2 linked regions of the Homo sapiens genome follow. The protein of the gene in region 1 interacts with the protein of each later gene in a pairwise test. Each region holds a gene or a part of one and is shown on either strand. Other genes may lie near its edges. The genes, in order: CCNQ and GPR37.

Evidence for each region.
Region 2: the proteins of CCNQ (region 1) and GPR37 interact in a two-hybrid assay, tested with the Homo sapiens proteins (one large-scale study listed by BioGRID and IntAct).

Annotation. Positions count from the first base shown.
Region 1 is NC_000023.11:153,592,349-153,596,168, forward strand, and holds part of CCNQ (cyclin-Q), read right to left. Parts: coding exon 3,656-3,820; intron 2,332-3,655; coding exon 2,199-2,331; intron 386-2,198; coding exon 158-385; intron 1-157. UniProt on the Homo sapiens protein: Activating cyclin for the cyclin-associated kinase CDK10.
Region 2 is NC_000007.14:124,745,772-124,748,795, forward strand, and holds part of GPR37 (prosaposin receptor GPR37 precursor), read right to left. Parts: intron 1,573-3,024; coding exon 754-1,572; 3' UTR 1-753.

The sequences.
Region 1 (3,820 bases):
GTCCCAGGCCATCGCAACAGGGTACTTTCGAGCTTCCATGTTCCCCAGCAGCCCGTATCTTTCTTCATGGATAATTAATAGAATTTGGTGAGCACTGCAATACAGAGACTTCCAGAGGGAAAGGGGGCACGTCCAGTGTGCCAAGCAGCCACCTCACCTGCCACCACGGCTTCTCAGCCTCGACCTCGGCGGGCACCTCAACTCCGTAGACCTGCAGGGCCAGGTAGAGCACCGCCACGGCGATGTGCTGGGCCTGGAAGCGGAGGCACAGCGCCCCATGGTAGCTGTCCCGCAGCAGGGCCCAGGCGGTGACGGCAACAGGGGTCCGCTGCCAGCTGTGGCGGTTCAGCCAGTTCTGGAGGGAAACCAGGTAGTGGAGCAGGTACTGCAAAGACACGTGTGTCAGCCTTTAGGCCCACCAGCTGCTCTCCTCATGCTGACATAATCATATCAGCACCTGCTCCAACCCTCCAGCAGCTTCCATGTCCCTCAGGAAGAAGCCCCAAGGCCTTCTGCTGGCCCCATCTCCTGCCGATCCCACCCTGCCTTCCAGCAAACCCCATCTAGGGCCTTCGCACTTGCTGAGCCCTCTGCCTGAAACCAGCTCACCGTATGCACCTGCCCACTCTCACCCTCCAGACCCAGCTCTAGGGAAACCTACGAGGGCCACCCCCACCACAGTCCCTCTCCACCACAGGGCCCGCTCTGGCCACCATGAAATTCCTCGGGGCCTGGTGCTCCGGAAAGCACCCTCTTCATGGGCAGAACAGAAGGTGCTGCTCCCCATGCATCTGGCCTGCTGCCAAGGGCACATGCTGTCCTCGGCCACAACATCCAAATGACCTCCCAGCCCAGCTGCCAGCTCCTGCTCTCAGAACACTGACATTTTGCCAGAACCTCACACAATAAGACAGATGCTGCGAGCTCTCTGGACAGTCTGGAACACACATGCGTGTGACCCCAGCACACCATGCAGGAGGGATACATAGGTTACTTTCCACCCCAGCCCTGACTGGAAGGAGGGGAAGGGGCTGGCAGGCTCCCAGCCACACCAAGCTATCAGTTCCCCATCTGGGCACAGATCACACACCCCTTGAGGTCTGAGTGCTGCTCTTTCCTAAGCCCTGTCGCCTTGACAACTCCACCCTGCAGCCACCAGGGCATCTCCCACCTTCCCCCAGGATGCTCAGCAAGCATTCTGCCCACTAAGACACTACTGCGCAGAAATCCCAGACCAGGGCTTTCCAGGTACTGAGGTGGGAGTGTGGAAGGCTGGAGGCAAGATTATAAAGGCAACACGAAGGGCCCATGCGGGTGGAACCGTCTCTCACCTTGGCTGTGGTGGTAGGTCCGTGAACGGAGTCGTGATAAAATGGAACAGAAAAATATACACACAGGAATACAAGTGGAAGTGAGGATGCCAGTGGACTGTGTTGGTTTTGGCATCCTGGCTGTGTTACCCCTGGGGGAGACTGGGCTAAGGGTACATGTCACAACTGCATGGGAATCTACAATGATCTCAGGAAGAGTTCCGATGAAAAAGAATGAAACTCCTAGCCCAGAGCCCCAAACCACAACTCCTCCATCTCTGTCTCCGGCCAGCCTTCTGAGCTGCCCGTGCATGGAGCTGCGGTGCCCAGAGCATCGTGTGCCAGTCGCCTAAGCGTTCCACTTTTCCCTTTTACTGCTGTTTGAAATGGTTCTTCTGTTGAGACTCACACATTCCTAGAAGTTAAAGCATGCTGCTTGACTCAAGCGATTTGGCTTTCCCCATGGCTTCCTAAGCACAGCTGAGCTGGAGGCGTGCTCCGAGGCATCACAGCATCCCCTGGGGACGGGGACTCTGGCCGGTCACAAAACCAGCCTGCTTCCCCGAGGCCCAGCGTGCACACCATCTATATGGACCACAGGAGCTGCCACAGCTTCAGCGGGCAGCACGGACCCCGCCCACAGGTGAGCAGGCAGAAAGGCAGAAGCTGAAATGAGAATTGGCTGAGAAAACCCACAGGGGTGGGACGGGAGAGGCCGGGCGGCCAACCCAGCCACAAACACAGAGCCAGGAGACCCAGTTCCCAGCCGCAGCCCTGCTCTCCTTCTGTGCTGTGCTCTCGAGTATGAGATGGGATGCACTTTTGGGATAAAGAACAGAGACCATGGCTTGAGCCTCTCCAAACAGGCACCAGTTCCCCAGTATGTACCTTGTGTGGATGCTGGAAGGAGACCTGGAAGCGCAGAACTCTCAGCATGAGAAGCTCACACTGCACGATGCTGTCCCGGAGTTCCCAGAAGCGGGAGTCCAATTCCAGGGGCTCACCGCTTGGGTTAAAGTACCTGCGCAGAGAAATGGCAATGCTTCAGCAGCCAGGGCAGTCTCCTGAGCACTGGATGGCTCAAATTGCTTAAGTCACACAATGTCCAGATGCAAACTACATCGTCCATCTGCAGATTCATGGAGGGTCATTTTATTTGGGTTTTTATACAAAAATTCTTCATCTCCACATCTAGTGTAGAGAATGAAAACAGTAACCAACAGAGGAAAGAAGCCAGCTCCTAGTTTTAGCCAGATGGGCTGTCCGCTATCATTCAGCAAAATGTCAAGTGCAAAGACTGGCTGTTGGCGATGGCTCCAGAGGAACCGGAAGCTTGAGCATGCCAAGTCGGTTGTGCTTCCTGTTATACTCAGCCCGGCATTAGGGAGTCTTCATCACCTGAGGTGGCAATGCCCGGGGCTCTCACTCTGGGCCCAAGGAACGTATTTTTTTAACTTATTTTTACTTTTTACTTTTTGAGACAGGGTCTTGCTCTGCCTTTCAGGCTGGAGTACAGTGGTGCAGCCACAGCTCACTGCAGCCTTGACCTCCTGGGCTCAAGCGATCCTCCCGCCTCAGCTACCCGAGCAGCTGGAACCACAGGCATGCGCCACCACGCCCGGCTAATTTTTGTATTTTTGGTAGAGACGAGGTTTCACCATGTTGACCAGGCTGGTCTTGAACTCCTGGGCTCAAGCGATCCACCCGCCTCGGCCTCCCAAAGTGCTGGGATCACAGGCGTGAGCCACCACGTCCAGCCATCCAAGGAACATGTTTAAGCCTCTCATGGGAATGATATACTCCAAAAAGTGAACATTTCTCAGTTTTGTATTTCCCAGACCGTCTTTCCCTCGCCTTGGCGAAGACCCTGCATTCTGCCCCAGCAGGAACACACCTGCTTGGGCCGGCTGTGCCATGCCCACGCCACACCCACAGCAGGGCGAGGCTCCTAAGCAACTGGGACCTACCACCTGGCTGGGTCTGCACCCTCCCGCTGCAGGCAAGCTCTTCTGCCTGCAGCCATCCCTGTCTAAGACTTCCACAGAATCTTCTTTGACATGCCTCTCCAAGCTCCCTCTGCTGAAGCCCCGCCTCTGCCCTCCATCCAGCTTTCGAGGCTCCCCATAATCTGGCCCAGCGTTTCTCTCACAGACCCCACTGGCCTCTGACATCAGGCTCCTTCTCACGTTTGCTGCTACTGTTTCTGGCCCTGCCTGGTTCAAGGCCATCCAGGTACTTCCTTCCAAGCTCCATTGCTGGCACCTGGTGGGCAGGGCCCCATAGGAGCCTTCCCTGCCCGTCCCCCCCACCGGGTGGAGATCAGGAGCCCAGCCAAATGCCATTACCTGTTGGACACATTGATGATGTCACGAGTCCGCAGGTGCTGCTCTTCCACTTTGCCGGCCAAGTAAATTGAAGACATGGCAATCAGGTAAGGGTCATAGGCGTCCAGGTTGGTCTCGCAAAAGAACTTATGGTAAATGGTGCAAGCAGTGGCAATGGGAATGGAC
Region 2 (3,024 bases), on another chromosome or scaffold:
CTCTGCTATTTATTCATATTTTATAAGTATTCAGAAGTAATTTGACATCTATACCTGAATATTAAAAATACAGCTTTGTTTTAACATACAACATAGTTTTATGAATCATGCATATAAAATACTGCTATTAGAAAAACTTCTTTATAACATAATGATTACCTGCCTTAAAAGAAAATACGTTATAAAACAGTAAGGCCGGTTTTAAATTGTGCATAGAACCAGTAATTGTATCTTTAAGGCAATTAGAAGATTTATTGAATATTGGTTAAAAGTAGATTGACAATGACATTAAAGAATAAAGTGTAATTTATTTGGTGCTACTTTGTGAATGCTTCCAAGTACAAATCATCTCACAATACCATATACAACATACTTTCAATCACAACTCAAATATAAAATAACCTACAAAATCACATTGCTATAATCAATATACAATAATTGTATTTTTAAAAGAAGAAAAAACGTTAGCAATTTTAAGTTAAGTTGCAGTAACTTTTTTCAAATAAAATATTAGCACCATACCAGATAAAATAATCTAAAACTATTGGCCTTCTCATTCTTCTTAAATAACTAAATAGAAACTTTTTTTCAAAGCACAAATATTAATTTGTAAAATCAGTTCTACAGTAGTTAATATTTCTTTCTTTATTGTTTCTTTTTTGCATTTTTCCCTATAAGGAAAAATATGAATTAAAAACTTTCACGGGATATGAAAATCAAACAAATAAATCTGACCCAACCAAGTACTGTCCTTCAGCAATGAGTTCCGACAGAAGCAAAAGTGGACATTTCACGGCGTATGGTACTGAAAGGCGAGAGTTCGAGTTCCGTGGTGTACTCGTTGTCATTGTCATCACTGGTCACCGTTGAAGACTTCTGAATGCATTCCTCACAGCAACAGCAGCAGCACTCCATGAAGGCCCGACTGAAGGGTTTGCAGAGACAGAAAAGGAGGACTGGGGTGACACAGGACTTAAAGAACAAAAGGAACTGGCTGATGATATTAAGGAGGTCCATTGTCTGCTGTGAAACCCCTGTAGCCATGTAGGCAGTAACAATGTTGCAGATATTTTCAGGAATAATGCAAAATCCATATAAAATGGTCAGTGCCACTACTGTACAGTTCATCTGACTCTCTAGTTGAATCTGCCGTTTATTCCCTCGGGTACAGGCTTTCTCTGCTTTGCGGATTTTCCTCGCAGTCACTAGAGAGCAGGTGATGGTGAAAAGCGTGGGCAAACAAAAGTAACAGCCAAAATACCACCACAGTCTCGCACTGTCGTAGGTGAGGGCTAGAACATAGATGGTGTCTGGTAAATCAGGAGAGATCTTAATAATGCACCTTTCTGCCGGAGCTCGGCCACTAAACCCCAAATCCTCCTTGCTCAGCTGGCGGAGAACAACTTCTGGAAGTGCTAACAATAGAGCTCCCACCCATATAACAGCAAGTTTGGCAGTTGTTGAGGAACAGTTTTCGATCATTTCGTAGTACATCTGTACGTTGGTGGCAGCACGGAAGCGGTCTATGCACAGAGCACATAAGGTGAAAGTGGTGACTCCCAGAGAAGCGACCTGTGGGGGAACATAGAAGACATTTATTCCCGGTGTCCCCCGAAAGATCAAAGCACTAGGAAATAAATGCAGATTGGCAAAACTGTAAAAAAAAATATGGATAAATAAAAATGAGAGAGAGAGAGAGAACAGTTTTCCAGAATGAGGCATGGGTAACTGGGCTCAGGACGTCAGCTGAATCATTGTAAGCATAAAAAAAGAAAACACACTGTAGTGGTTTGAGGGTCATGGAGTGCAGAACATTTAGGACTGGAAGGATCCATAAAGATCAGCTAGTCCAATCCCTTTTTATTATAGATCAGAACCCAGATACACTAAAAATTTTATTCACCACGAAAATGTCTGCCACTAGGAGATCTAGATAAGGAGTCAGGGTAGTGCAGAAATTCCCATTTTCATTGCTGACCAGGATGCTCATGTTTTCCAGTGTGAGGGTCAGTAGTGTGCCTTACACACAGCAAACACTCAAGAGCTTATTGTCTCCAATGGACTAAATGATTGGAGGGCTCCTCCAATTTTTCCTAAATGCAAAATAAAGTATTACAGTATTATTTTCAAAGGCATACACTTACGGAAAACAAGAAAGGGAAATTCTCCAGAGGCCAAAATCAAAAAGGAAACAAATTTCAAACAGGCCAGAGACCCCTCCCTCTTCATGCTGCGTGTTTGCCCTAGGGGCACCTGCCAATCCTGGTGAGGGTTTCAAGTTAGTTTTAGCTAGAAAAATGGGGCAAGGTGCCCAGGTGCACAGAGACAGGAAACAGAGCTGGGGCCAATGTGGGTGGGGATTGGGTCAAAGACTCCCTGTGAATTTGGAACTCCTCAAATGCTGACATCTTTAGAGGTGTAAAGGGAAAAAAGAGAGAGAGATAATGAAGAAATCTGCCTGGATGACAGGGTTTGGGTCTGGATGAACTGGGGGAAAAGGAGGGAAAAAAATGGCAAATTCTAACTGGGAGCCTGAACTTACATGGTGTTAGGATCAGAATTTCCAGGATCTACGTGGCTCAGAAAACCCAAAATACAATTTAAAATAATCCCAGGCACCTGGTTAAAATCAAACATAAATCCTCTCTGGAAGAATGCACTTTAAAACCAGGCCTCAAAAAATCCTATAGTTAAAATTCAAGGGACATGGGTTCACAAAATCAAAAGTCACAATATGCAAGAGACAATGAGCCACTATGAATTTATATGCCAAAGATACAGAATCAGACATAAGAAGTATATTTATCATAAAATAGGTATGTACATCAAATTTAAAGAAATAGGAGATACTAAAATAGAACATGTAAAAATACAAGAAAATATGCAGAAAATAGCCAAAAAGAATGTCTAGATATCCCAAACACAGGAAAATTTTGGAGCATAAAACTCTTTGACAATAACCACATGAAAAACTGTATTCAAAAAGGCACTGCTCTTATAAGCATATGGTCCAGACATCTAAAA